Regions from separate parts of the Homo sapiens genome. Here all the other regions are linked to region 1. The links come from fine-mapping of genetic effects on gene expression. A gene starts in region 1. Each other region holds a variant in brackets. All regions are shown on one strand. Distances are from middle to middle.

Region 1 (11,164 bases):
AATTTTAAATGGCTCTTCTGGACGCACTCCATATGGGTTTGCCCTGCTCCATAAGGAGCAATGGAGCAGTAAAGAAAAAAAAAAAAAAAAAAGAATTTTAAGGGAATACTCTGAACAAGTATATGTCAACAAATTAGATAATGTAGATGAAATGGGCAAATTCCTAGAACTACCACAAATGACTCAAGAAGGAATAGAAAATCTAAATAGTCATATAACAAGAGACAGAATAAGTAATCAAAAAAACTACGCACAAAGAAAACCTCATGCCCAGATAGCTTCACTGATGAATTCTACCAAATATTTAAAGAATTAATACCAATTCTTCATGAACTCTTCCAAAAAATGGAGGAGAAGGGAACACTTTCCAACTCATTCTATGAGGCCAATATTACCCTGACAGTTAAATCAGACAAAGATATCACAAGAAAACTATAGATCAGTATCTCTTATGAATATAGTTGCAAGATTCCTCTACAAAATACCAGCAAACTGAATTCAGCAGCATATAAAAAGCATTATACACCATGATCAAGGGGATTTATCCTAGGAATGCGAAGTTGGCTTAACATCAATTAACATAATGTGCCATTTAATTAACATTATATGCCATATCATAAAATAAAGGACAAAAACCACAAGATCATCTCAATACATGCAGAGAAAGCATTTGACAAAATTAAACACCACTTTGTAATAATAAAAAAATCAATAAACTAGGAATAGGAGTGTGTTTTCTCAACCTGAGAAAGAGCATCTATGAAAAAGACACAGCTGATATAAGACTTACTGGTGAAACACTGAATGTTTCTCCCTTAAGATCAGGAACAAGACAAGGATGGCTACTCTTGCATTTCTATTTGACATTGTAGTGGAGGCAAGAAAATGAAACAAAAGGCATTGGAAAGAAACAAGTAAAACTATATTTGCAGATGACCTGGTTTGTAAATAAAAATTCCTAAAATATCCACTAAAAACCTATTAGAGCTAATGAGTTCAGTAAAGTTTTGGGATATAAGACCAATATACAAAAATCAATTTTTAAACATTTGCAATAAACAATCCAAAAATGAAATTAACAAAAATCCATGTATAATATCATCAAAAAGAATAAAAAACCTAGGTTAAATTTAAGGAAAGAAGTGTAAAACTTATACTCTGAACACTACAAGACACTGGTGAAAGAAATTAAAGATCTAAATAGATGGAAAGACATCCCATGTTCATGGATCAGATTATTTAATTGTTAATATAGCAATACTCCCCAAATTGATCTACAGATTCAACACAACCCCTCTCAACATTCCACTTGGCTTCTTTTGAGACACTGACACATTGATTCTAAAATTCATATGGAAATGTAAGGGACCCAGAATAGCCAAAATAATCTTGAAAAAGAGAAACAAAGTTGAAGAATTCATACTTCCCAATTTCAAAACTTTATTAAAAAAAGCTATAGTAGGCCTGGCGTGGTGGCTTATGCCTGTAATCCCAGCACTTTGGGAGGCCAAGGCGGGCGGATCACAAGGTCAGGAGTTCAGACCAGCCTGGCCAACATGGTGAAACCCCGTCTCTACCAAAAATACAAAAATTAGCCAGATGTGGTGGTTTGTGCCTGTAATCCCAGCTACTCCGGAGGCTGAGGCAGGAGAGTCACTTGAACCTGGGAGGCGGAGGTTGCAGTGAGCTGAGATTGTGCCATTGCACTCCAGCCTGGGCTACAAGAGTAAGACTCCGTCTCAAAAAAAAAAAAAAAAAGCTATAGTAATCCAGACACTGGTACTGGCATAAGAAAGACATACAGATCACTGGAATAGAATTGAGAGCCCAGAAATAAACATTTATGGTCAATTGATTTTTGACAATGGTGCTAAGAGGATTCAATGGGGAAAGAACAATCTTTTCAACAAACAGTGCTGAGACAACTGGATATCCACATGCAAAAAATGAATTTGTACTCCTACCTCACACCATACGTGAAAATCAGCAACTCAAAATGGTTCAAATGCCTAAAAGTAAGAGCTAAAAGTACAAAACTTTTTTTGGCCTTTAAAAACATATATATTTAGGGGGTATAAGTGTAATTTTGTTACATGTATAATGAAGTCTGGGCTTTTAGCGTAACCATTACCCAAGTAGCATACATTGTACTCATTAGGTAATTTCTCATACCTCACCCCCCTCCCACCCTCCCAGCTTTCTGAGTCTCCAGTGTCTATTATTGTATTCTGGATGCCCATATGTATACATTATTTAGCTCCCACTTTTAAGTGAGAACATGGGGTATTTGACTTTCTGTTTTTTGAGTAATTTCACTTAGGATAATGGCTTCTTGTTCCATCCATGTTGCTGCAAAAGACATGATTTCATTCTTTTTTATGGCTGAGTAGTATTCCATGGCATGCATATATATATATATACACACACACACACATATATATACATATATATATGCACACACATACATACATATATACGTATATATACACACACATACACACACACACATATATACACACACACACACTTACATATACATACACCACACATTTTCTTTACCCAATCATCCATTGAAAAACACTTACGGTGATTCCATATCTTTGCTATTGTAAATAGTGCTGCGGTAAACATAAGAGTGTAGATATCTATTTGATATAATGACTTCCTTTGGGTAGACTCCGTGGTGGGATTGCTGGATGAAATGGTAGTTTGGTAGCTCTATTTTTAGTTCTTTGAGAAATCTCCATAATGTTTTCCACAGAGGTTGTACTAATTTACATTCCCACCAGCAGTGATAAACATTCCCTTTTCCCTACATCCTTGCCTACATCTCTTATTTTTTGACTTTTTAGTAATAGCCATTCTGACCGGTATGTAAGGTGGTATCTCATTATGGTTTCAATTTGCATTTACCTGATGATTAGTGATGTTGAGCATTTTTTTCGTGTGTTTGTTAGCCATTTGTATGCCTTCTTTTGAAAAAATGTCTGTTCATGACCTTTGCCCACTTTTTAATGGAGTTATCTTTTTTTTCTTGTTGAGTTGTTACAAAACTCTTAAAGTAAGACGTGAGCAAAAATCTTTTTGGACTCGGGAATGGATTCTTAGATATGACACCAAAATCACAAGCAACCAAAGAAAAAATAAAGTGAACTTCATCAAAAGTAAAAACTTTTGTGCTTCAAAGAACACCATTAAGAAAGGATGAAGAGAATTCAACAAATGAGAGAAAATATTTGCAAGTCACATATTTGATAGGAAACTTGTATCTAGAATATATAAATTTATCTTACAACAATATAAAAATAAATAATTCAATTAAAAATGGGTAAATGATCTGAATAGACATTTCTCCAAAGCAGATATACAAATAGCCAATAAACACATGAAAAGATGCTCAATGTCATTAGTCACTACTGAAATACAAATGAAAACCATGGTGTGATACCACTTCATACCCACTAGGATGACTAAAATCAAAAGGACAGACAATAACAACTATCGCTGAAAATGTGGAGAAATTGAAACCTTTATACACTGCTGGTAGGAATGTAGAATGGTGCAGTCACTTGGGAAAACAGCTTGGAAATTTCTCAAAATGTTAAACATAAAGCTACCGTATGACCCAGCAATTCCACTTCTAGGTATATACCCAAGAGAACGGAAAACATATGTTCACAGCAGCATTGTTCATAACAGTCAAAAAGCTGAAACAGGTCGGGCACAGTGGCTCACGCCTGTAATCCTAGCGCTTTGGGAGGCCGAGGCGGGCAGATCACCTGAGGTCAGGAGTTCGAGACCAGCCTGGCCAACATGGTGAAACCCTGTCTCTACCAAAAATACAAAAATTAGCTAGGTGTGGTGGTGTGTGCCTGTAATCCCAGCTACTCCAGAGGCTGAGGCAGGAGAATCGCTTGAACCTGGGAGGCGGAGGTTGCAGCGAGCCGAGATCGCCCCACTGCACTCCAGCCTGGGTGACAGAGCAAGACTGTCTCAAAAAAAACAAAAAACAAAAAACAAAGCTGAAACAATCCAAATGTCTATCAATTGATGAATGGATAAATACAATGTGGCATATTCATACAATGAAATATTATTCCACAATAAAAAGGAATATAGTACTGATACATGCTACAACATGGACAAAGCCAGACACAAAAGGTCACATAATATATGACTCCATTTACATGAAATGTCCAGAATAGATAAATCCATAGAGACTGAATATAGATTTGTGGTTGCCAGGGGCTGAGAGGAGAAAGTGCTTAATGGATAAGGGGTTTTACTTTGGAGTGTTGGAAATGTCTCAGAAGTACATAGGGGTTGTGGTTGCACGACACTGTGAACATACCAACTGCTGCTGAGTTGTTCACTTGACAATGGCTAATTTTATGTTACGTGAATTTCACCTCAATAAATCACAGGTATTTGAAAGAAAAAGCAATCCAAAAATCTAAGCTAATATTTCCACTTACATGCAATGTTTTAAAAGTTGAAAAGTATTTCAAAAAGAGAGAGGATTTGTTTTTACAAGTTGGACTTGGCTTTTTTTTTTTTAACCTAGGAAATTTGGCTAAATTTAAAGAACTGTGAGTAATCCTAGATATAAAAAGATAATTTCTCTTTACTCTCTGCTAATAAACGTCTACTACAGCAGTAGAGTTCAGATGGAGCTTTTGAAAGATTTATTTCATGACATGCTTAAAGATTTGAAAGAGTCAGTACACCTCCTATGTCCCTTCCTACTTTCAGAGATGAGTTTCCTACATCATCAGCACAAGTCAGCTGGGTAGGAGAATAACATTTGATTCCCAAAGTAAAACATCCCACGCTAATTAGTATAGCACACTCTGCATCCTAAACCCTCCACCTTAAGCCTGAATAAACTTCCAAAGGCAAGACGTGGAATAGAAGTTGGGGGAATTACCTATAACCTAGACATCAAAGAAGTGGAGTTTAAGAGCAAATTACTCATATTAATTGTCCCAGCTTATTTACTTGTTTTTATTTTAATTTGCTTGTTGGAAACTCTATCCCTTAAATGCTCAAGTTTGTTTCAACTAGATGCCAATAGCCATGAGAAAGAACCTCAGTACAAAATAAACAAAGTGAATATTTAAGCTTCTAATTATATGGGGGTACAGAAAGGCATGCCATCTATTTAGAAACAATACACCTTTTTTTTGGAAACAGATGATCTAGCATTCTCCCAATTCTCCTAGATTATTTTTAAAACGTGATGCAAATCTCATGAAGTTCTGTGTTGAATAGATATAGAAATAATGTGATCATTGAGTTATAAAATCCAATAAAAATTCAATGATGCTACTAAATGTCACAAAAGTAGGGATATAGCTATTTATAAAAGTATTGAAGAAACACATATAAATTACACTGCCTTTCTTGTTCCCTGCCACTGAGTTTTAAATTGAGATTTTATATTGGTACATTATCGAATGAAATTAAATCAAACACAAAATATCTCTAAGACAATACTTTATGGTACTTCATAAATTCAAAGCTACATCTTCCTAAATGTAGTTTCCTATGCTACTCTAACGATGCCTTGTGCAAATCACACAGGGCAGCTTGAGCATCGTGGGAGTAAATGAGAAAGGAGAAGAGGGTGAGGGCAGCTCATTTTCCCCTTTTCATTCATAACCACAGGCACATTCCCAGTACTCACATGTGTCAGATCTCCTGGTTTTCGTTGAAGAACTGCTGCATCCCATGACTTCTATCTAAATCATATGTGTTCATGAATTCAACTTCTGATTTTAAGACAGAGTGTGAAAAGTGCCTCCCTTTAAGCTGCGAGGAACCACTCTTAGCCGATCCTCTTCAGTCATAGATTCTAATGAGGAATACACAGGAGGGAGGGAAGGAAACCGCCAGTTAACCACATGGTAGCTGAGGGGCTGCTCAGCAGGATTCATTTTACGCTTCTTCTGAATCGCTGTTCATCATGTGATGTGGAAAGTGATCAGACATAATCTAATCCTGGCTTATTTTCCAAAACACAGCAGCAGCTACAGAGCAGCTATAGGCTGCTTCTCTGCTAGACATAAATGAGTTTCTCCATGTCTAGGTCACATCCAGCTCTGTATAAAATAGAGCATTCAAAATGAAAAGAAAAATCGAAATATGAGAGTGTACGATTTTCTAATTTAAATATGGGGAATGGGATGTGGAGGAGCTGACATAATTAACTGTTTTGGTTTTCAGCTCAAAGTAATTCAACCTATCTAGGCTTTTAAAAACACAAATTGGAAGTTGACTATGAGACAAAAACAACATATTTAACAGCTATGCTGAAATTCAAAGTGAGTTCTTTGACAGTATTTCGCGGAATAAGTTGGGAACATTTGTTTTAAAAAAAAGGAGGCAGCCGGTCGCAGTGGCTCACGCCTGCAATCCCAGCACTTTGGGAGGCCGAGGCGGGCGGATTACGAGGTCAGGAGTTCGAGACCAGCCTGGCCAACATGGTGAAACCCCGTCTCTACTAAAAGTACAAAAATTAGCCAAGCATGGTGGCACATGTCTGTAATCCCAGCTACTCAGGAGGCTGAGGCAGCAGAATCGCTTGAACCCAGGAGGCGGAGGTTGCAGTGAGCTGAGATCGCACCACTGTACTCTAGCCTGGGCGACAAAGCGAGACTCCATCTCAAAAAAAAAAAAAAAAAAAAAAAAAAAAGGAGGTTTGAAACCTCCCCCCAAATTTAGGAATTGTAATCTGTGAGAGTGTCCTTTTATTTATTTTATTTTTTGAGACGGAGTCTCGCTCTATTACCCAGGCTGGAGTGCAGTGGTGTGATCACAGCTCACTGCAGCCTCAACCTCCCAGGCTCAGGTGATCCTCCCGCCTCAGCCTCCCTAGTAGCTGGGACTACAGGCATGCGCCACCACACCTGGCTAATTTTTTGTATTTTTAGTAGAGACGGGGTTTTGCTGTGTTGGCCAGGATGGTCTCGAACTCCTGACCTCAGGTGATCCACCTGCCTCGGCCTCCCAAAGTGCTGGGATGACAGGCGTGAGCCACCGTGCCTGGCCAAGAGTGCCCTTTTAAACAAGCTCTCTGGGCACTGCTGAGGCCCCTCTGGAGTCTAACTTTGTGTTCTATAGTCCTTCTCATGAGCTCCCTGACTCCCATAATCACTTCACGGGAGTTTTCAACAAAATTCCTTTCCATAGTATACTGTCACGTCACTTTTTAGGGTGATGTTTCCTTTATTTTGTGATGCTCCAAACCAACCTGATCTAATATATTTGCATTCCTTTTTTTTTTTTTTTTTTTTCAGACAGGGTCTCACTCTGTCACCCAGGATGGAGTGTAGTGGCACAATCACGGCTCGCTGCAGCCTTAACCTCCCAAGCATGTGCCGTGACACCCGGCTAATTTTATTTTTTTGTAGAGACAGGGTCTCCCTATGTTGCCGAGGCTGGTCTCAAACTCCTGGGCTCAAGTGATCCTCCGACCTTGTCCTCCCAAAGTGCTGGGATCACAGGTGTGAGCCATCTTGCCCAGCCCTATTTGCATTTCTTGACAGGCACAAAGTCAGCAAACAACTGACATATCTATCTTTCCATTGGTACTACACCAAAAGCTTCAAAATTTCAACTCGACTGAAGAAAGGGAAAACTAAAATAAGCAAAATATTTGAACTATGGCCATGTTTTGAAAATAACAATAAGCTTAGTAAACAGATTTTCTGACCAGAGGTGAACCTGATTATTTTATGTATTGAATGAATTAGCCTTCCTAAACTTTGGGTTACTTCCAAATTTTTATTTATTTTTTGAGACAAGGTCTCGCTCTGTCACCCAGGCTGGAGTGCAGTGGCGCAACCATGACTCACTGCAGCCTCCACCTCCCGGGCTCAAGTGATTCTCCTACCTCAGCCTCCTGAGCAGCTGGAACTACAGGCATGCGCCACCATGCCCAGCTAATTTTTGTACTTTTTTGTAGACATGGGGTCTCACCATGTTGCCCAAGTTGGTCTCAAACTCCTGGCCTCAAGCAACGTGCCCACCTCAGCCTCCCAAAGTGCTGGGATGACAGGCATCAGCCACCGTGCTTGGCTTTATTTCCAAATTCGATAGGCATTTCTTTCGTGTCTTCCTTATCTACATCATGGCTAAAGAACATTAACAAGATCAGATCCAAGGGCAGGATGAGCCCTGTGGCATCCCACTCCAAACCATCCTCCAGGTTCACCACAGATCCGTTACCTTCATACTCGCTGAGCACATTTGTTCAGTTAGCTGGTAAACTCACCTATCATAACTCTCATTTATCTGTGAGACATCCTGGAGAATTTTACTAAATATTTTAATAAAATGATGATATGTATATATTTTGATACTTTGACATTCCAGCTTATTCCAGCAAAAGAAGAGAGAGGGAAGGAGGAGGAGAAAAGGAAGGAAGGGCAGGGGAGGAAGAAAGGAAGGAAATCAATTTGGCAACATTTTTAATACAAAATCATAGAAGTTTAAAGGTGAGAGAGACCTTTAAAATTACCTAGTATTTACACAAAGTGCAAGGAAGTTAAGCAACTTGTCCCATGTCATATAGACCTGTGCTTGTCATACTTCGTTGCATATGAGTGTCACCTGGGGAGCTTTTCAAACTCCCAGTACTCAGCCTGCACCTCATTAAGTCAGAATCTCTTGGGGTTTAAAAAATACTGATGCCCAAGTCCCACCCCCAGATAATTTGACATAATTGGTACTGGGTGGAGGATGAGGCATCAAGATTTTTTTCAGTTTTCCAGATTCTAATACACAACAAAGTTTGACAATCTGTAATAGAGACGGTATTTTAGAAAACCCACGGTGCTGCATAGTGATGATCACATTTTCCTAGAAATGCTTTGGCTCCATCTATTTCAAGCTGAATTTTTCCAGAGGTCATATCAAGTCTGTGGCTTCTAGCATATATTCTTTTCTCATTTTTGAAATTGGGGCACTGTTCATCTAGGAATTCATCTAGTCCTGGTGACATTCTCCAGGTGCCTAGATCAGTGCTCTCCAACTCGAGTGCTCACAAGACTTATTGGGGGTGGGGGGATGCAGATTCCCAGGCTTTACTAACAATACTCAGATTCAAAAGTCCAGTGCCTTGGAATACACATTTAAAGTGCACCATGCCGAGAACTTTGATGCAAGGAATCCCCATATCTCAGTTGAAGAAACACTATTTTCCAACAGTATCCAAATCTCGCTTGGGCTTCGCTCCATCCTCATGCTATTTTTTCCACCCCTTTTTATGAAGACATAAGAATTGGGGCTGGGCACAGTGGCTCTCATTCGTAATCCTAGCACTTTGGGAGGCTGAGGCAGATGGATCCTTTGAGCCCAGGAGTTCGAGACCAGCCTGGGCAACATAGGGAGACCCCATCTCTACCAAAAAATACAAAAAATTAGCCAGGCATGGTGGTGCACATCTGTAGTCCCAGCTCCTCAGGAGGCTGAGGTGGGAGGATCACCTGAGCCTGGGAGGTCAAGGATGCAGCGAGCCGTGATCACACCACTGCACTCCAGCCTGGGTGACAGAGTGAAATCCTGACTTTAAAAAAAAAAAAAAAAAAAGGTATGTTTTTTAATTTAAAAAAGAAAACAGGGGAAAAAAAGAATTGAGCATTTAGTAGGCCATAAACACTGATTGGACTGATTGACATATTTCAATTTCGATTTTCTTTTTCCAGAAAAAAAAAAGCACTGTCTCAATATCTCTCCAGAGGCATTTGGTTTTCAGTCACCCCTCAGTTAATCCACAACAAACACAACTGCATATAAAAGATTCAGTAAGAACTAAAAAGCATCAAACTTGAGTATATTTCTGTTAGACTATTAGCCCCACGGGCAACTTCCAAAGTAGCCCTTGAATCTCTGGCACCTACATGGTGCCTTTCACATTGCAGATGTTGGATAATGCTAAATGAATGAATGAATGAACAAAGGAATCAATATTCCTAGGCCAGAGTTCTTTAAAAATTTAGTTGCTAAAAGTCATTATTAATCCATCATTTTGTGCACAGGTAGGTGCTATTCAATTATACAAAAGCATTTTATTAAATCAGAAAGGGGTAGTACTTATACATAATTTTTAAAGAAAGTTTTAAAATCATGATGGAAAGACATGATGTTCTAGAATTTTTTGATTATCCATTAGAAAAAATTGGCTATAATAATTTTTACATTATTAAATAATTATTATCAGTTTATTTTTAACTGTTTTTCTCTCAGGTAATAGGTTACAAAAAAAGTCAGTTCTTTTTCATTCTCACCAAAATATGAGCTGGTTAAAGCAAGATGCCACTTACCCCTCCCATGTACTGCCCCACCTAGACTTCCAGGAGAGAGGGAAGTGAGTTTGTAAGCAGTGCGTGAGCCTTTGAGGACATCTCTGACGTAAAGCTGATAAAAATGATTGGGGATTTTCCATGACTTGGTAAAATCTAAGCTGCTTCCATTTCCCACCCTCTGTTAGCGTTTAAGTGCATTGAAGAAGTCTCTGAAGAAGTGATTCCCTGAGGCCTGAAAAGGGTTCTCAGGCTCAAAGAGGTGGGGGGCTTCCACAGGGTTCACAAACGCCCAAGAATGTCCTAGTGGGTAACATGAGCCGCTGGGTGGATCTTGGCAAAAAAACAGCTTGAAACTTGCCCATTGCTGCTGTCCCTTCTAATATATACCAAGGATGGTTTTAAAGAGTAAACATGAAATAATGACTCATCATTGGCACTCACTTATAATTTGCAAAAGGAAAGCCTTCCGCTAAAAGGTTTTTACTGTGTGTGTGTTGGGGGTGACTGGGTGGAACTGATAATTTTCCATTTTTTTCATGCTAATCTTTCACTTCCAATGCTGAAAATACAAGGAAAGTACAAAAGACAGGCCGTGGGGACAAACTAACGTTCGCCACCAAGCACCCTCCAACCACTAGCCCAGCCTCCCCGAGTTGTTCTTGTTCATTCTTAAGGTGGTCTGATTTCTAAGCTCATCTCTATCCAACTTCCACACCTTGGCTCAGCCACCCTGACACGACCCTCTCTGGCATTCTAGATGTCAGTTTCGTAGTTTCCTATGCTAGAATTCAGCTTTTCCTAGAGATGTTGGCTTTAGCAAGAAATTGGCTTTAGCTCTAGTCCTGAAAACCTGGAAC
Region 2 (9,328 bases), 140 kb after region 1:
TGTGGAGATAGGGGCACGGAAGCCTACTTGATATGCCCTCTAGAAGAAAGGCTCTCTAACCAAGGCACGCAGGAGGAAAAAGGCTGAATGGATTCCAAAGGGAGAGGGAAGATTCTAAATGCAGACCCAGGAATGTTTCCTCAGATTATTTTCTATCCCAGCCCCCTTTCCCAACCCCCAACTCAAACTGAGTTTAAAGAAAAGGGAATGACATAAAAGCAAGGGCTTTGTAGCACCCGAGTATCCATAACAAACTGGGAACACGGAGTCAACACTCCCTTGTGAACTGGTTACATAAATGAAGTATTCTACTTTAGCCAGAAAGCTGTTGGAGAACACTGGAACACAGATTAGGACCAAGAGAGATACTGCCTATGAGAAGACAAGAACCAGCAGTAGGAAAGGCCAACTGTGGCATAAGCAGCGAATTACCTGGATCACACCAAGGCAGTCAACAGGGAACTGGGTACTTACAGGGAAAAGAGCATGACAGTGGATGTCACCTGGCAGTGGGGGAATGTCTGAGATGCAATCGGGGACATCCCAAAGTAGCTTAGAGCATTGGGAGGGGACAAAGGTCCAGGTGTTCTGCAAGTTGGGGGTGAGCCAGAACAGTGGTGTTCTGTGACTGTTAGAATGCTAAGGTAGCTGCAGCTGCTGAAGCACAGGAACACCGGCAGTTTCCTAAAGAAGCAAGATCGAGAACATGCTTCTCTAATATCCCCTCTGAGTTACTCAAGGTTGGGGTAATCAAACTAAAATCCATCTATCTCTAAGAAACAGAATAACACACAGATCTCAAATAAGAAACAAATGATCTAACAAGGGACTAATTTAACAAGAGACAAGTCTACTGATTACTCATGACCTGGTCTGTGCCTGCCTTTCCATCCCCATCTCATGTCCCTCTCCCTCACCTCCATCTTTCAGTTCCCAAAATAGCCCCAAACTTCATTTTTCCACCTTAATGGCCTTCAGACTTGCTCCCTCTGCCTACAATGCTCAGTCTACTACATAGGCTCTTGACAGGGCTTGCTCCTTCAGGTTTTAGTTTAAATATCACTCCTCTAGAGCCTTTCCCAGACCACAAAAGCAAGTAGGCCTCCATCCCCATTATTCCTTATCACAGTTCTGGACTTTTCTTTCACAGAACTTCTTACCATTTTTCTTGATATATTTGTTTGCTTAGTGGTATGCAATCTATGCAGCCATCCCTGCTAAATCAAGAGCTCATGGAGGACAGGACTCAATTCTTCTGTTCAACAATATACACCAGGACTGTACCTGACACAAGGAGAGGTGATCAATACATTCTTCCTACATGAATGCTTCACCTGTGGCCATAAGGAAATCTCTGCCCATACATGCGTAACTCTTCCTCACTTCAGCCACAGCAACGGGAGGGCAAACAATAGGCACTTTGCCTCTCAGTTTTCTTACAGCACTGTCAATTTCCTCAAGCACCGCTTATCAGGCAGTACGATAAACTGAATTTTCTCTTCTCCCTATTCACCTCTGTCCCTAGGTGTCTTCTACAGTATGTGATTAGAAATGATGGAGGATACAGAACACTGACAGTGCTCAGGGTCAAGAACACACACAAGTACATGCACACAAATACCTAAATAAAAATAAAATCATTAAGAGCGTCCATAAACTATGATGCTTTGTGAATTCTTGGTACTGGAAATGCAAATGAAAAAACATCGTACTATTATTTATTACCAACTTGTGGCAGTTTCACTTTGCTAATGAATAAACCCTCTTCAGAATGGCTGCATCAGGATGGTTTTAGTAGAAGGAACAGTGGACCAGGACTAACTAGGGAGACCTAGATTCTGGACTCGGTCTTTTAATCAACTAACAGTACACCATGCAACTTTAGGCAAGCCACTTAACTTTTCATCAGTAAAAGAAACAAATAAATGCCTCCATCTCCCAAAAATCCTATTGCCTTTTTCAAGTCTAATAATCTATTATTTCTTTTCATTAAAATTGTATTGATTATGAGCCTAAACCTCATGGAACTTGGCTGCTTTGTTATACATACATTATTCGAATCTGTATTGACTCCACTTAACAATGGTTAGAGAAGATAAATGAATCATCAAAAAGCAGCACACAAAATTACCTAGAATGTAGTGCCCAAACAACCTCATTGGAGCAGCTGTTTTTAGGAAATAAAGGCTTTTCTACTTTATGCCAGTCATAGTATTAAAAGTTGAGGTAAACACTTGAGCACTAAGATTGCAATGAATGGGAACAGGCAGAAAGTGGAGTTAATTCCCTAAATTCAAGCAAAATGGGCACTCTTCATTATTACTGGGTACATCCTATAATTTTGTTTTTCTAAGTACTTTGAAGGTTCCTGGCCTGCCCTGCACTTTATGATGAAAACTGTCAACTAAATTATCAGATGAGGGGAGAAGGAAGGCACATTCCAATTACACAGGCTTCTCTTCTCAGAGGTACACAAAGTAGGAAAGCATTTTGCAAGGCATTACAAAATGCCTTACAAAAAGCATTCAGTAAGGCATTTTCAAAGGGTGGTAGCACAGCCCACTGAAATGAGCACAAAAATCACTGCCATCTAGTTGAAATAATCCCCGTGGATTCTTTGTCTAGGCTAGGATTCTTTATCAAGGCTGGGCTCCAGTTTACAAATGAAGAAATCAAGTCTAGAAAGGATAACTTTCTCAGGGTGCATGAATGGAGGGTCATATTCAACCTCATAGTCTGAGTAGAACACAGGCACAAAGGTGGCATAGTATACAATACAGTGAGTTTTGGAAAGTGAGTCACAGTACCCAGGTTCAGGTATAACTATGCTACCATTTAGCTGAACGGCAAGGCGGCATAGTATGGGTGGAAGAAAAACTCAACAAAGATCCTGGGTCAGCATTTTAGTTGCAATTATTCACATACACGCTATGCAACTTTGAGCCTGAGGTCCATCATCTGTATACTGGGGCTGAGTTATACTGGATTATTCAGAAGGACTCTTCCCGAGTCCATACTTCTATGTGATAACTGCTTATGTGCATGCTGACCCATCTTGTCATCAGTTACCACTGAGGGGGTTTAGCTGAATGCAGGATCAACTCTGACAAAGTTATGTGCAGATATATAGAAACCCCACTGAGTGAGGACAAAATGGCAGGGTGGAAAAAGGATGTTAAGTAAAAACAACCCAAAAACTGTCCTACTTCTAAACTTACCAGTAAGGCAAGTTAACACACCTAAAAATCAAGAGCGATTTGCTAAAGAGAACAATTCTTAAGAAGAAAGATCACAGGAGCAAAGGAGATTCAAAGATAACTGATGAAAAGAGAAAAATCTAAAGATGAGCAGAAACTCTATTGTAACTCTATTTTTAAAGAACTGTGGGCTTAGAAAGGAAATCCAGGAATAGCTGTAACCTACTTTGTGAAATCACAAACCTGACATTTTTGTATAGCCAAAGAGCCCCCCACCCCAAATGGACCTTTACACAGATAAACTGATAAAGAAAAATCAACCCATCCTTGATCAAAACCACGGGGGTACCATATTTGAGTCTGGTTGCTCTTATTGAAGAAGGGACATCAATAGACAGACAATGTGGCTGAGGGAGTTTGAATGCTAGTGCTACTGTTACATACACCAAGAAAGATGAGGACCCTCCAATCTTTAGAGATGAAGAACAGGTAAAAGCACAGTAGAAATTTATTAAATCACAGAAGATGCAAAATGATCACCAAATCCTAGAAGAATCCCTGAAGTCTGAAGGAGGTCCATGTTGAACATGAAAAGGAAGTGTGGTAAAATCATGACTAGCCAGAATGCTCAAGCTCAGTTAATCAAATTATTTGTTTAATCAAGGGTTGGACTTTTTGTTTCAAGGCCTCTTTCACACAGAAATCAGGCTCTTGAATTTAAGGACTCCAGATTACGAACTCTGGTTTTGTACCATTATATAAAATAAGAGACCAGAGTACTCCTGATCCAGAGATCAGTATAGAGCTTTCCAGTGTCTGGGTAAACAGAAGAATAAAATAAATTAGAAGACAGAACAGATGATCAATTAAATGTTTTCTAATAATTAAGAAGAATATGTCCATTCCAAGAGGAAAATAGTTCTCTATAGAAAACATTCAGCAGAATACGAAATGCAAGTAATTTTATTTTATATAAAAGCAGAGACACAACCTAAGTTTCATCTTAAATGTAGACTAGTGTATAGCTCCCTGGAGTCAGCCTCCTTGCCATGCACAGAGGCCCAGTGACAAGCAGAGAGGCTCTCCCCTCACTCCATCACCTTACATTTAAGGAAAGATGGAAAAGTCTAAAGAAGCAAAAAGAAGGTCCAAATGTATGTCAAAAATAAATTCTAGACAATAGGTTTTCCTAAAGTAAAGGCTGGACAGACAATATTTTGAATTCTTGCTGGTCCAAAGCTATATAATCTAAATCAGCGCTCTTGGGTTATTTAATAAATTGAGGACAGCAGACACTTGTACTTGTCTTGACAAAACAACAGTGATACATTATCATCTGAACATCAAATCTCACTGTAGAAGATGGGAGTCATAGAAAGGGTAGAAGAACTGGACTAAATTTATAATTTATACATAGTCTGAAAAGTACCTTTTAACTAAATAATCTCTAGTATCTTTATGATCTATGGTCATTTTTTCCCTTCTCAGAAAATCCAAATAATGAGCAGAACTATTACAATGAGCAGAACGAATACAATGGAGACTTCTGGTTGGTCAGGTGTTTACTAGATAAAATTTCTCTGCAGGAACTTAATAGCCAAACTTATAATACCATCATTTAGGGTTATCTTAAAGAACTCATTATCACAGACTCCAAATTTATGAAGGGTCAACAAACAGAAGTCATCAAAACAAGAAAAAATTAACTAATGAAGTAAGCTCAGACAAAATTTTTCATTACTCAAACATTCTTCCTTTTTAATAGGAGTCTATATCCCCAAGTCAGGGTGTCAAAGTCTTTCAGAGAGAATCACAGGCAAAGACACTGATAAATTGTCTGATAGAATTGTATCTGCTAACAACTAGAAAATAAAAACCTCGAAAAGGCAAG[G/T]CTTGGTGGCTCATGCCTGTAATCGCAGCATTTTGGGAGGCTGAGGCAGGAGGATCTCTTGATCCCAGGAGTTTGAGACCAGCCTGAGCAACATAGCGAGACCTTGCCTCTACAAAAAATGAAAAAATTAGCTGGGAGTGGTGGTGCGCACCTGTAGTCCCAGCTACTTTGGGAGGCTGAGACAGGAAGACTGCTTGAGCCCAGGAGTTCAAGGCTGCACTGAGCCATGACCATGCTACTGTACTCTACCCTGGGATACAAAGCAAGACCCTGTCACACACACACAGCCTGAAAAAGAAGACACATAGACAGGAATAAAAAAAGAAGAAGAAGAAGAAGAGAAAACTGACAAAGCTTTTTGTATATTTCTTAATGACCCTCTTTACTATAGAAGCTATTCATTGGCCTAGCCTACAATTTTACTGTAAAAACTGTTCCTCCTCCCAAAAAGGTTAACACTTCATTCTTTCTTGAAATAGCATATTAGTTACTACTATAACCTAACTTGTGTTAACTATAAACTTATTTTCATAATTTTAGTTTCATTTTATCCACTTAAAGTCCCAAAATAAACTTTTATTTACTATGAAATTTTGATTCCCATTTTAAATAGTGATCTATCATCCTGGGATAATAAAGACTTCTTGAACTAAATAGTAGTCTAACAAAATATAGTTTCACAAACATTTTTTATAAATTTGTGAATATATATGAATTTAACAAGAAAGTAGGACATTAGCATAATCTTTTAAAGCTACCAGAAATTAACATATATTCTCACAAAATATTCCGTGATATCAGTGAGAGAATAGATGGTCCCGACTTACAATGGTTTGACTTCGATTTTTTGACTTTATAATGGCATGAAAGCCATATGCGTTCATGAGAAACCATACTTTGAATACCCATAAAATCATTCTGGTTTTCACTTTCACTACAGTATTCAATAAATTACATGAGATATTCAACACCTTACTATAAAATAGGCTTTGTTATATGATTTTGCCCAACTATAGGCTAACATAAGTGTTCTGAGCATGTTTAAAGGAGGCTAGGCTAAAGCTATGATGTGTGGTAAGTTGGGTGTAGTAAAGCCTTTTTTTGGAGACAGAGTCTCACTCTGTTGCCTAGGCTGGAGTGCAGTGGCATGATCACGGCTCACTGCAGCCTCAACCTTCTGGGCTCAAGCGAGCCTCCTACATCAGCCTACTGAGTAGCTAGGATTACAGGCACACACCACCATGCCTGGCTAATTTTTTTAAAAATTTTTTGTAGAAACAGGGTCTCGCCATGTTGCCCAGGCTGGTCTCAAACTCCTGGCTCAAGCAATCCTCCTGCCTCGGCTTCCCAAAGTGCTGGGATTACAAGTGTGAGCCACCACACCCAGCCAAAGCATTTTGTACGTAACAATTTTTTCCACTTATGATGGGTTACTGGGATGTGGCCTCATCACAAGTCAAGGAGCATCTGCACTGGATTACCTTGAACATGGCTCAGACCAAGTGCAGATCCTATTTCAGTTAACAATATTTTTACAGGATTATTTCGTTATCTTCACTAAGACTTTTAAACATTAGATCTAGATAATCACTGCCATAATATCAAATGAATATTTCAAGAATAACTAATAAAGGGGATTAATGAGAGCTACATGACAATGAGGGCAATATTATCACGACACTGTTTTTTATTATAATTGGCTAAAATTTAATAAACTGATTGAGAATTAAATGGTTTACCCAGGGGTTGAATAGACATCCTTACCTGAATGAGACTATCTATATACACTTCACACTCCAAAAGAGTTGTTCACCAAACATGTACCCTTTTTTCCATTAAGCAAGACACTACTCCAGCCAGAGGAAAAGGGTAAAGACAGAAAAAAGAGAGTACTAGTATCTCCCTGGGAGAAATGTAAACAGTAGGTAAGTGGGCCAGACTGGAATGAAAAAGTTTATGAATAATTGGTTATGTTTTTGGGTTCTAGCACAGAAATGTTTTGGAAGTATCCCTCTAGAAGTATGTGTAGGTGGTACGTAGGTGTCATTGACAAGGTGGGGTGGGTGATAAGGCTGCATGCCTCTGAGGGATGGTGAGTGATAAGGGTCTGGCAGAGATGAGGGCAGAGCAGATTAATGTTTTGTTGGTTCAATAAAATAAGGGCAGATCAAATGTCTTCCACGTCTAGACTATTCATGAACTCCCAATACCACGTCCAGAAACAGTTTCTCTCACCTCAAAATGATCCAAGTTCCATGTCTCCATTCAGGCAATAACTGTTTTCTACTGTGTTTTATTGTTATTTATTTGCAGGTCTTAATTCTCCTAATAGGTCATATGCTTCTTGAAAGTATCCACACCTCAACTCTTACAGCACTTCACTCAGTGCTCAATGAATTTCAACGGATACACTAGATTTCCACTCTAAAGGTATCATTAACACAGGTAAAAATATATAATTGAAGCTAAGAATTGGTATGCACAAGACAGAGATTATAAAGAACATGGTATTTACTTAAAAAGAAAGTAATGGGGCTGGACAAGGTGGCTCACGCCTGTAATCCCAGTACTTTGGGAGGCCAAGGCAGGCGGATCACTTTGAGCTCAGCAGTTTGAGACCAGCCTGGGCAACATGGCGAAACCCTGTCTCTACAAATAAAATACAAAAAATTAGCTGGGCATGGTGGCGCACACCTGTAATCCCAGCTACTCAGGAGGCTGTGGCTGTAGAATCACTTGAGCCCGGGGAGTGGAGGTTGCAGTGAGCCAAGATTGCGCCACTGCACTCCAGCCTGGGTGACAGTGTGAGACCCTGTCTCATAAACAAAAAAAGGTGGCATACATGGCCTAGATTGTACTTTTTACAAAATTTGATGACAGTTATTATTTTTGGTGGTAACTGATGCTTGCCAATATGCCCTGAAAGATGAATGCACAGCCAGAAGCCTTTACATGCATGCGAAGGTTGTGCTTTGATCTACTGTTGCAACCATTCTTTTTAGGAAATCACCATTTGTCTCTCAGCCACCTGCTGACCCAAAGTCACTGCTCAAAGAGCTCATTTCCAATGGTATCACAGTGGGATAGCCTGGAGCTACTGCTTCCTGCTAGACCACAAATATCCCATTTGAAGCAAGATTTTTTTGTCCCCCCAGAACAAGCAAAAAGTTCTTTTTTACCTTCCACTTTTTACCTTCCCTTTAAGCCTGCCCATACAATGACTGCTAAAGTTCCCAGCTGATATGCATGTGTTTCATATAACTAGCACATCAGAGATGGATTACATCAAATACTACTACATCTATCCTGGAGCAAGTCCCTTTTTGTTATTTAATGTTTGCTAAGTCTTTGAGGTGAGGGTGATGAAACTGTTCATAAATATAGAGGCTGGTGTCTTACATCACTTAGGGGATGTGTGCTGATGAAGGTAAGCTATGACTGCTATTTCCACACTTCTAATTAGATATGAAGATTGATGCTGTGTTGGTACTTCTTACTCTTAGACCATAGTTTTTCAAATAGCAGGCTCTGACTTACTAGTAGTGAAATCAATCCATTTGATGTCACAATAGGCATTTACATGAACAGGAAAGAACAGAAAGTAGAGAGCTTCACATTCATAAGATGAAGTTCGTGACATTTTTGCTTCATTTACATATAGTGTTACATATGTGTGCGGACACTGGGTTAGGATATGAAATATATTTCTACTGTGGGTCTCAGTCCAAAAAGTCTGAAAAAAATGTTGTCTAGAGCACCTTAAAGGCCATACCTATTTTTGTTATCAGTTTCTCTATTTGGCTATCTTTGGATGGCCAACAGTCTAGATTTTAAAACTAATGAACTACTGAAATGCATTATTTTAAACTTTCTTGCCCAGCATGGGGTAATTTTACAACTCTGTCTGAAATGGTCTGGATGTGATGAAGGCCCCTAAGCATAGTATTTCTTCTTAAAAAGCTTTTATTCTCTCAATGCATTATTCTAAATATAAAATCAATCCCTCAATATATCCTTGTATTTCTAACTCTGACTAGGAGCTGGAGATCACCGTAACCAATACTGAAATCTTTCATGTAGTACTTGCTATTTATGTGGACCCACAGAAGTATTTACTTGAAGCCAGTTTTTTTATTTTAATAATATTTAGAAACAGCATAAACAACATGCCTTCTAACCAGCCTTTGGAGCAAGATTTCCAATGCTGCTTGCAACCTTAAAATAAAAAGATGAATTTTCT
Region 3 (11,164 bases), 81 kb before region 1:
CAACTTTAATCGGATCAGACTGTAGAGCACTCTGTGGGCCAGGGCATTGTTATTGTTAAAAACAATAGAGCAATCGGCTAGCAATTAGTGAAGGCTAACAGCTGGGACTGCTTCAAATAGAGGCAGATGGGTCCGAAGCTTAAAGGAGAGATCAGGGAAAGAGACAGTCAAAGAGAGCCCAATTAAATCCACACCAGCCCTGGTGGTGGGAGAAACTGTATGCATGCCCAAGGCAGCACTCTGTGAAGAGTGACATCAGAGGCTGCACACTGAAGGGGAATAGACTTCACTAAACTAGTCCAGACAAGTCACTCAACAAATAAACAAAAAAGCAAATAACAACAAGCCCCAGAGGGGCATGGGAATAACTACCTAGGGTTACTACAATGTAAGATTACAGGACATGCAAAGAAAAAAGTATGACTCATACACGGGCGGGGGGTGGGGGGAGCGGAGGGGGGAAGCAGGCAATAAAAACTGCTTTTGAAGGGACTAGACGTCGACTTAGCAGACAAAGATTTCAAAGCAACTATTATAAATATGTTCAAAGAGACATATATAAAACACTCCACCCAATAAGAGTGAAATATATAGTCTTCTGAAGTGCACATGGAGCATTCTCCGGGATAAACCATATGCTAGGCCACAAAAAAAGCCTCAACAAATTTTAAAAGGATTTACCAAAAAAAGAAAAAAAGTTTTAAAGGAATTTAAATCAGGCAAAGCATGTGTTCGCTGACCACAATCAAATTAAATTTTAAATCAATAAGCGAAAGAAATATGGGGAATTCATAAATATGTAGAAATTAAACAACACACTACCAAATAACAGATAAGTTAAAGAAATCACAAGGATATTTAGACAATACTATTGAAAACAAAAGCACAACATAGCAAAACTATTTTTTTTAAGGCAGCAGCAATTGTTTAATAACATAGCAAACTTAAGGGATGGAGCTAAAGCAGTACTTAAAGGGAAATTTGTATCTTTGTTAAAAAATAAAAAAGATCTCAAGTCAATGATATTACCTTCTAAGGAAACTGAAAAAAAGAAGAGCAAACTAAACCCAAAACAAGCAGAAGGAAGGAAATGATAAAGATTATGAGGCAGGAAAATAAGGTCTGGAGGCAGGGAACATAAGGCCAGTTCACACTTCAGCTATGACAGGAAATATCCTCTCCATTGGGCTTATGCTGTAAATGACTTTGTAACTTTACTTCAAACTCTGCATTTACATAGGGTGTACCCCAAGTAACCAATGGAATCCTCTGGGGGTATTGAAACTCCCAGAAATTCTATAACAGGGCCTTTCAGCCCGTATGCTCGGGGCCACTCCCACACTGTGGAGTGTACTTTCATTTCAGTAAAACCCTTCATTCCTTCCTTGCTTTGTTTGTGCGTTTTGTCCAATTCATTGTTCAAGACGCCAAGAACCTGGACACCCTCCACTGTTAACAATTAGTGCAGAAATAAATGAAATAGAGAATAGACAACAATAGAGAAAAATCAATAAAACTAAAAGTTGGTTCTTCAAAAAGATCAATAACATTGACAAACCTTAGTGAGACTGACCAACAAAAAAAAGGAAATATTACTACCAAACTTTCAGGAGAAAAAAAAATAAAGAAGTACTACAAACAACTTTAGGTCAACAAATTAGATATATTAGATGAAATGAATTTCATGAAATAAATTTGTTTCAGGAAATGAAACAAATTCCAAGAAAGACACAACTACCAAGACACAAACTACTCAGGAAGAAACAAAAAACTTGAATACAACTATAGCAAGGAAAAATATTGAAATTAGTAATTTTAAAACTTCCTGCAAAGAAAAGCCCAGGCCCTGATGGCTTCACTGATGGATTCTATCAAACATTTGAAGAATTAAAATCAATCCTTCACAGACTTTTCTAAAACACAGAAGAGGAGACAATACTTTCCAATTCCTCTTATGAGGCCAAACTTATACCAAAACCAGACAAAGATATCACAACATAAGAAAACCATAGACCAATAGCTCTTATGAATATAGATGCAAAAATCCTCAAAAAATATTACCAAATGGAAACCAGCAACATAGAAGGTGGATTATACATCATGACCAAGTGGGATTTATCCCAGGAATGTCAGGTTGGTTTAACATCTCTGAAATCAATCAATATAATATACTGTATTAATAGAATAAAGGGAAAGAACACATCATTTCAATGTATTCAGAAAAAGCATTTGACAAAATCCAACACTCTTTCACAATAAAAACACTCAATAAACTAAGCATAGAAAGAAACTTCCTCAATGTAATAAAAGGCCACTACAAACAAATACACAGCTAATATCATACTTGATGAAAGACTGAATGCTTTCCCCAGTATCATGAACAAGACAAAGACATCTACTCTCTTCACTTTTATTCAACAGTGTACTGGAGGTTCTAGACAAGGCAATTAAGCAAAAAGAAAAAAAAGGAAAAGAAAAGGCAGACAGATTGGAAAGGAAGAAGTAAAATTATTCACAGATAACATAATCTTGTAGGTGGAAAATCTCAAGAAATCCACTAAAAACCATTAGAACTAATACGTTTATCAAAGTTCACAACACAATGTCAGTATATAAAAGTCAGTTGTATTTCTATACACTAGCAATGAACAATCCAAAATGTAATTAAGAAAACAATTCTATTTACAATAGCATCAAAAACACCTAGGAATAAATTTAACAAAACAAGAGCAAGACGTGTATACTGAAAGGTAAAAAACATTGTTGAAATTAAAGATCTAAATAAATGGAAAGACATCTCAAGACAGCCATAGTACCCAAATTGACCTACAGATTCAAGGCAACCCTACCAATATCCCAGCTGCTTTTTGGTAGATATTGACAAATCAATCCTAAAATTCATATGGAAATTCAAGGGGCCCAGAATAGCCAAAACGATCTGGAAAAAGAAGAAGAAAGTTGGAGAACTCACACTTCCCAATGTTAAAACTTCCCACAAAGCTACAGTAATCAAAATTGTACAGTACTGACATAAGGATAAACATAGAGATTGTGAAATATAATTAAGAGTCTAGAAATAAACCCTTTTATTATGGTTAACTGATTTTTTGATAAGGGTGTCAAGAAAATTTAACAAGGAAAGTATAGTCTTTTTAAGAAATGGTGCTGGTGGCCGGGCACAGTGGCTCACACCTGTAATCCCAGCAGTTTGGGAGGCCGAGGCGGGCAGATCACCTAAGGTCAGGAGTTTGAGACCAGCCTGGTCAACATGGTGAAATCTCATCTCTACTAAAAATACAAAAATTAGCCAGGCGTGGTAATGCATGCCTGTAATCCAAGCTACTACTCAGGAGGCAAAGGTTGCAGTGAGCCGAGATCGTGTCACTGCACTCCAGCCTGGGTAACAGAGCGAGACTCTGTCTCAAAAAAAAGAAAAAAAAAATTGGTGCTGGGATAACTAAATATCCACATAAAACAGAAAGAATTTGGAATCTCACCTCCCACCACACACAAAAATTAACTCAAAATGGATCAGACACCTAAATTTAAGAGCTAAATGTATAAAACTCTTAGAAGAAAACAAAGTAATAGATCTTTATGACTTTGGATTAGGCAATAGCTTAGATACAACACCAAAAACACGAGCAACCAAAGAGAAAAAATATATCATTTTGACTGGGCATCACCAAAATTAAAAACTGCTGTACTGCAAAGGACACCATCAAGAAAGGGGAAAAGACAACCCACAGAATGGGAGAGGGTATTTGCAAATAATATACCTGATAAAGGATTTGTATTTAGAATATATTCAAAAAACCTCCTACAATGCAATAATAAAAAGATAAATAACTCAGTTTTTAAGATGGGCAAAGGATCTGAATAGACAATTCTCCAAAGAAGATCTACAAATATCCAATAAACACATGAAAAGATGCTTGACATCATTAGTCATTAGGGAAATGCAAATCAAAACCACAATGAGATTCCATCTCATGCCCTCTGGGATGGCTATAATCAAAATGATAGACAATAACAAGTGTTAGAGAGGATGTGGAGAAATTGGAACGTTCATCCATTGCTACTGGAAATGTAAAATGGTGCAGCCACTTGGGAAAACAGTTTGGGACTTTCTTAAAATGTTAAACTTTTTTAGAATTAGTTTATGACTCAGCAGTTCCACTCCTAGGTACACACTTAAGAGAAATAAAAACATACATGCACAGAAAAACTTGTATGTGATGGCTCATAGAAGGATTATTCATAGTAGCCAAAAAGTGGAAACAACCCAAACGTCCATCAGCTTATGAATGAATAAATACAATGTGTATATCCATATAATGGAATATTATTCAGCAACAAATAGATGTTCAGTACTGATACATGCTACAACATGGATGAGCCTCCAGAACATTGTGCTGAGTGAAAGAAGCCAGACACAAAACATCACATATGTGTCCATTTCTACAACATGTTCAGAATAGGCAAATCTGTAAAGACAGATAGTAGATTGATGGTTGCCTAAGGCTGTTAGGTGGCACAGGGTGGCTACAGAAGGGAATGGGGAATGATGCTAATAGGTATGTAGTTTCTTTTTCAGATGATGAAAACGTTCTAAAATTAGATTGTGGTGCTAGTTGTACAACACTGTGAATATACCAAAAACCATTGAATTATACACTTTAAATGGGTGAGTTACATGGTATGTGAATTATATCTCAATAAAGCTGTTAAAAATATAGTGATGAATTCCAAGAGAATCATGTGGTCTCCTCGTAAAGGTAAAGTCACTTTTTATCTATATATTGTAAGGGACAACATGCACGCTAGTGTCATTGTTGCCACTGCAGTGAACACCCTGATTACCTACCTGTTCCCATTCATGCTCTGTTAAGTGTTCAGTAGGAGATCCATTTGTTTTGATTCTTCCATGTGCATTAAAAGTCACACCTACTTTATTGTGCTTCGAGTCAGTGTCATGGTCTCTGTTTGTTTCCGTTGGTGGTATCAGCACAGATTTCATCTATAAAACAAATTCATGCTTTAGTCCAACCCTCTGCTTATTCTGCCACATACAGAGACTTCAGTCCCAGGTGGGATTCTTTCTATGTTGTGGTGCCACAACCCAATGAAAAACACACGGTCACTTTTTGCATCTCGTCCACCTCCTATATCTCACTCATCCACTGATGTCTGTAAAGTGGGTCTGTTACATTGTTGGTACATTTTCCAATTACAGACATTGCCTATAAAGAAAGAGTTTCTGTGTTTCACTGGAGTTTCTCTATAGGTGTTAAACACATTCTGTGGCATCCACACAGAAAATGGAAGATACCAAGGTAGGGGCAACGAGTCTCCTTATTGAGCCTTTATCTAGCCATAGGATCTTCAGGAGTTCAGAAACACCTCTTAATAGAGTGGCTGCTGTGCATTTTGTTATGCTTTCCAGAAGAAAAGAGAAAAGGTACATCTGTGTCCAAGAAAGTTCTTAAAGGGGACATAGGTTGAAAACTTCAGAAGCCCTTCCAACCTAAATGCATTGTGGTTCTCAGCCTGACTCTGCCAGCCATTGACGATGTTCTCTAATCTTGGCAACAAAACTGCTGCGTTTCTTTGGAAAACAAAACGTCTTTCTGATAGGGCATCAATTACTAGAATCCCTCTTGTTCCCTTACACAAGCAGAGACTGTAATTTTATACTTGTTTCTTTGTAGCACCATGTCTTTAAACAAAACAATATTAAACAATACTTCTGTTATACTGGTGGCCGTGGTTCAGTGATAGACAAATTCTCTGTGGTAGGCACTTAAGTTTCCTTTTTTTTTTTTTTTTTTTTTTTGAGACAGAGTCTTGCTCTGTCCCCCAGGCTGGAGTGCAGTGGCGCGATCTCGGCTCACTGCAAGCTCCGCCTCCCGGGTTCACGCCATTCTCCTGCCTCAGCACTGACTACAGGCGCCCGCCACCACGCCCGGCTAATTTTTTCTATTTTTTAGAAGAGACGGGGTGTCACCGTGTTAGCCAGGATGGTCTTGATCTCCTGACCTCGTGATCCGCCCGCCTTGGCCTCCCAAAGTGCTCGGATTACAGGCGTGAGCCACTGCACCCGGCCAAGCACTTAGTTTCTTTTACAAACTAGAGTGTGTAGGAAATCTTACCTTTATTTTTCAAAAATGAAATTGAATCTTATTCTGAGGTCCTGTCTCATTGAGCTAGGTAGAAATTCAAGCTCAGCTATTGCTAGCTAG[T/A]TCACAGCCTACCTGCCCTGTCTCCTGCCAGCAAATGTTCCCATTAGGGGCAGAGCAGAATATTCTGGGAGGACCCTCTGGACTTGGGTCCACACAACTCACTTCTTTTTCCCTTTTTCTTTCTTTCTTTTTTTTTTTTTTTGTAAAGATGGGGTCTTGCTATGTTACCCAGGCTGGTCTCGAACTTCTGGTCTCAAGTGATCGTCTCACTTCGGCCTCCCAATGTACTGGGACTATAGGCATGAGCCACCGTGCCCAGCTGTACACAACTCATTTCTGATGAGCTCATTGAGCAAGGCCACATGGTCTCTTAAGTATGTGTGGCTCTGAAGTTTTCAAGGCCATTTGGGATCAGGATACTTTGCCCCAGCTCTCCCTAAGGCACTACACGACCATTTTCCCCCAGGGAGTCTAGTAGCCATCTTTCTGCAAATGCCTTGCTGGGGAGTTTGACAAATAATAAACCAGAATCTTAGTTTTAGAAAATCTTCCTTCATTCTTTAATCCCTCTGCATTGACCCCCCTCAACCTGCCCACCTTACAAAATACCTTAAATGAACCTAGAATAGAGGTTGTCATCAAATTCCCCCAACCCTTCCCAACCCCTGTTAACAATGATACCATTACGACCGCAGGTGTAAACCAGGAAGTATGGTCCCTCCTGCCACAGAGGGTTGGAGGGTCCTATGGGATGGGAAAGTGGGGATTATAAAACTGGACTGGAACAATCTACTTTTATGTCTCATCTGATAGAGTTCCAAATGGTTGAACCTATCATTTTCACTACAGTTCAATGATATTTAATACAACAAGTATGTGTTACCAGTTCAACCTCACTCAAGGAAGGGTAGAAGACACAAACAATATACAAGTTGAATTTCTATCTTTAAAGCCAGTCTAAAGAGCAGGTAGAACAGTTATCCCTGAAGGGGGTGAAACTTTAGGTATCCTGAGAAAATGGCTGGCCCACAAACTCTCCCCAGGGTCTGTATTGGTGACTGAAACACAAACCTCAGAACCAAGTATAAGGAAAAAAGAAGAGAGAACTGGAGGAGAAAGCTATATGTTTAGTAGTATATGCCATTTTCTTTTCTTTTCTTTTTTTTTTTTTTTTTTTTGAGATAGTGTTTCACTGTCACCCAGGCTGGAGTGCAGTGGCTTGATCTTGGCTCACTGCAGCCTCTGCCTCCTGGGTTCAAGTGATCCTCCTGCCTCAGCCTCCCAAGTAGCTGGGATTACAGGTGTGCACCACCATGCCCAGCTATTTTTTTGTATTTTAGTAAGGACAGGGTTTCACCTTTTTGGCCAGGCTGGTCTTGAATTCCTACCCTCAAGTGATCCGCCCACCTCAGCCTCCCAAAAGTGCTAGGATTACAGGCGTGAGCCACTGCGCCTGGCCACCATTTTCTTCATATAGGTAATTACATTTAATCCTCCCAAAAATCCAATATGGTAGGTATTTTTATCTTCAGTTTATACGTGTGGAAACCAAGGATTAGAAAACCTCAGTATGTTGCCCAGTCACCCAGGAAGGGGCAGAGGCAGGATGTTAACCTAGTTCTGTCTGTCTAATCTTAGAGCCTCACAGTCTTTACTATGTTAAGGTGGCCCTCAACTTGGGATCTCCACAGAGCTAGTGAGGGACATCCCAGAGGCATCTTCTCAATATCTCAAAAAGCCCTCGATAGAGCTGGCTGCTCAGGCTAACCTCAGGAAAGCAAAAGTGTTCAATCTGGTCAATTGGAAGAGGCTGCCATGACTGATTAGCACTGTAGTCATAGGGCAGGTGGTGATGGAATGTGGCATTCATGCCCTGTGTTCACCAATATTTGACTGACAAAGACATCATGTTCCCTTGTGCTCTTGGTTAGAATCTAATCCACTCATTATGTTAATAATGACTATTATATCTTGATCAAAATGTCTTATTGGCTTGATTACTCACTGATATAATGAGAAAGGTACCTTAAACTTAGAGTGGGCTTAAGTTTTATTGCAACTGGGTTTTGTTGTGTTTGAGACAAGGTCTCTCTCTGTCATGCAGGCTGGAGTGCAGTGGTGCGATCATAGCTCACTGCAATCTCAAACTCCTGGGTTCCAGCAATCCTCATGCTTCAGCCTCCCAAGTAGCTGGGACCACAGGTGTGCACCACCACACCTGGCTAATTTTTTCTTTTTTGTAGAGATGACATCTTGCTATGTTGACCAGACTGGTCTCAAACTCCTGGTCCCAAGTGATCTGCCCACCTCAACCTCCCAAAGTGCTGGAATTACAGGGGTGAGCTACCATGCCTGGCTGCAACTGGGATTTTTTTTTTTTAGAGTAAAAGGAGGTGCTATTAATAATTACAATAGGACAACAGGTGTAAGCCAGGAAGCATCATCATCAGTTGGTGAGGTGGGGAAGGGTGGTATGTAAAATCACCACAGAATCAGGAGAGGGCTGTAAAAAACTTTCTATTCAGTTTTGTCTTAGGTTTACCCTGCTTTGATCTTAAATCCCTCAAGAGATAGTCAGTGACTATTAAGTACTTACTACATCCCAGGTGCTGGGGTTTTATCAATGGACTAGAAAAACAGAGGAAGATAGTAAACAAACAGTACCACAATTTCTTACTTAAATTCGGTAACTGTGATGAAAGATATGTACAAAGGGCTTGACAGTATACAAAAGGGGATCTCATCTGGTCTGGAGGTCAGACTTATTAAACTTTAATTAAAAAGATGGGAGGATACCAGCAACGACATTCTCATTCACATGTGTATAAAGGGTCCAAGAAGTCAAGGTGCCACTGGGGTCACATTTCTGTCTCTATCAGATTAAATTCCAGCTCTAGACCCCACCTGTCCAGGTTGGTTGGAAGTTGATGATCAGTCCTGAGGGGTAACAGTTCAGGTTTCCCACTAGGACCATATAGCATCATCTGGCTCCACTGCTGTTACTGGTCTTCAACCCATGTGGCGCCCCTACACCTCTAGCCTGAGGGCTTCCTCTTGGCTTGAGTAGAGGAGGAAGACAACTCCAATGACCCTGCAAGACCCGTCCAAGGAACCCTTCACTAGGCGTGAGATCTTCACAGTCACCACATAGCCACTTGTCTCAGAGGTTCCATACTAGCTCCTGCTCTGCTTGTATTTAACATGATTATTTAAACATTTCAAAAAAATATTTCCAAAAAAAGTATCCTAAGTTATTTGATGTGTATTATGTGGGAAATCGTATCAATTCAGAAATAAACTGCACTTATATAAGTGACTCCACTTATATAAGGTACCTAGAGTGGTGAAATTCGTAGACAGAAGGTAGAATGGTGGTTGGTGGTTGCCAGGGGCTGGGACAGGGGAGAATGGGGAGTTAGTGTTTAATGGGTCCAGAGTTTCGGTCTGGGATGATGGAAAATTCTGTAAATAGATGGTAGTGATGGTGATGGTTGCACAACAATGTGAATATACTTAATACCTCTGAACTATACACTTAAAAATGGTTACAGTGGCAAGTTTTATGTTATGTATATTTTACCACAATATAAATGAATGAATTGAGGTTTTAATTTTAAAAATCAGGATTTTTCACTTTTAGAAACTACATAAAATGCCAACATTTCCTCATTTTTCCACCCTCAACATGAATTTAAAATTTTTTTCCATATATAGAAGTTACCCACTTAGTTCTTTATCATGCAGTCATAGATTTTTCTTAAAATTTATACTTTTATATACTCTAATAAAATCTATAATCTTTTTAGAGTTACAACCACTAAAACACAAATCAATTCAAAATAATAAATGAAGAGGTATGTATTCCCTTCTAAATCCCTGAGAGAAGATTCATGCCAACATTACTTCTTACCTTGTTCCTCTCTACACGGTGGAGTAAATTCAAGTCTGTGGTCTCTGATATCCCACCATGGATGACCAGGATTTCATTGTCAACGATTGTACCGATTGGGAGCCAGGCATAGAATTCTTCCAAGATTTGTAAGATTCTTTTTCCATGTAGCTGTAAGTAAGAGCTTGAGTAAGTTTTGTTTTTCTGACAGGTTCAGTTTATTGAATAGTCCCCAAGTATGGACAAAAAGTAATGATTTTCAGGCCACTCAAAGGAAGTCAGCAAGGAGTCACTAACCAATTAGCATGTATTCATCATGTCTTTTTATTCTGTTTTTGTTTTTGTTTTTTTTTTGAGATGGAGTCTCGCTCTGTTGCGCATTGGAGTGCAGTGGCGCCACCTTGGCTCACTGCAACCTCTGCCTCCCAGGTTCAAGCGATTCTCCTGCCTCAGCCTCCCAAGTAGCTGGGACTAAAGGCGTGTGCCACCACGACTGGCTAATTTTTGTATTTTCAGTAGAGACGGGGTTTCTCCATGTTGGCCAGGCTGGTCTCGAACTCCTGACCTCAGGTGATCCGCCCACCTTGGCCTCCCAAAGTGCTAGGATTACAGATGTGAGCCACTATGCCTGGCCCTTTATTCTGTATTTTTGATACTATGACATCTTGGGGCCTTGCTGACTCTGGAGGAGAGACTGTCCCTCCCGGGGCTAGCTAATTCCTAGATAGTCAATGACTCGCCCTTCATATGCAAACCAAGCAACCGAGAGCCCACACCCCAGCTACCTTCTTTATGGAGCTCTCACACTCCTCATCCCGGGGCCAGTTACCAGACAACTAGGGACAACCTCTGTGGCCCAGAGCAGTCTGAAATTACTCAAATTGGTCAGTCCTAAACCAGATTACACTCAGATGCTTCCCTCCACCCTCCCTCTGCCTTCTTTTTTTTTTTTTTTTTTGAGATGGAGTCTCACTCTGTTGCCCAGGCTGGAGTGCAGTGGCACGACCTCGGCTCACTGCAACCTCCGCCTCCTGGGTTCAAGTATTCTCCTGCCTCAGCCTCCCGAGTAGCTGGGATTACAGGAGCATGCCAC

Alleles and levels. Alleles are on the strand shown, and positions count from the first base shown. SD is a standard deviation of normalised expression in the study named.
With allele T in place of G in region 2, the expression in testis of the gene that starts at base 5,868 in region 1 is higher (small effect, 0.32 SD a copy in GTEx).
As copies of T replace A in region 3, the expression in spleen of the gene that starts at base 5,868 in region 1 goes up (small effect, 0.29 SD a copy in GTEx).

The links. PIP is the estimated chance that this variant, and not a neighbour inherited with it, causes the effect. A credible set is the group of variants that fine-mapping cannot tell apart.
Region 2: its variant is the best candidate, but not a certain one, in a credible set for the expression of PPEF1 in testis (GTEx, PIP 0.61).
Region 3: its variant is the best candidate, but not a certain one, in a credible set for the expression of PPEF1 in spleen (GTEx, PIP 0.88).

Annotation. Positions count from the first base shown.
Region 1 is chrX:18,702,349-18,713,512 of GRCh38, reverse strand. PPEF1 (protein phosphatase with EF-hand domain 1) reads right to left here and starts at 5,868. Exons shown (of 16, transcript NM_001377996.1): 1 at 5,687-5,868. The coding sequence starts at 5,732.
Region 2 is chrX:18,564,749-18,574,076 of GRCh38, reverse strand. The region is part of intron 4 of CDKL5 (cyclin dependent kinase like 5); the gene reads right to left. Among named protein-coding and RNA genes, the nearest start is that of RS1, 100 kb to the left of the region's middle. RefSeq lists an enhancer at 7,826-8,388. The variant G/T (reference allele first, on the strand shown) is at 5,089.
Region 3 is chrX:18,782,977-18,794,140 of GRCh38, reverse strand. It overlaps PPEF1 (protein phosphatase with EF-hand domain 1), which reads right to left. Exons shown (of 16, transcript NM_001377996.1): 9 at 10,093-10,242; 10 at 4,868-5,020. Among named protein-coding and RNA genes, the nearest start is that of PPEF1, 81 kb to the right of the region's middle. RefSeq lists an enhancer at 1-374. The variant T/A (reference allele first, on the strand shown) is at 6,243.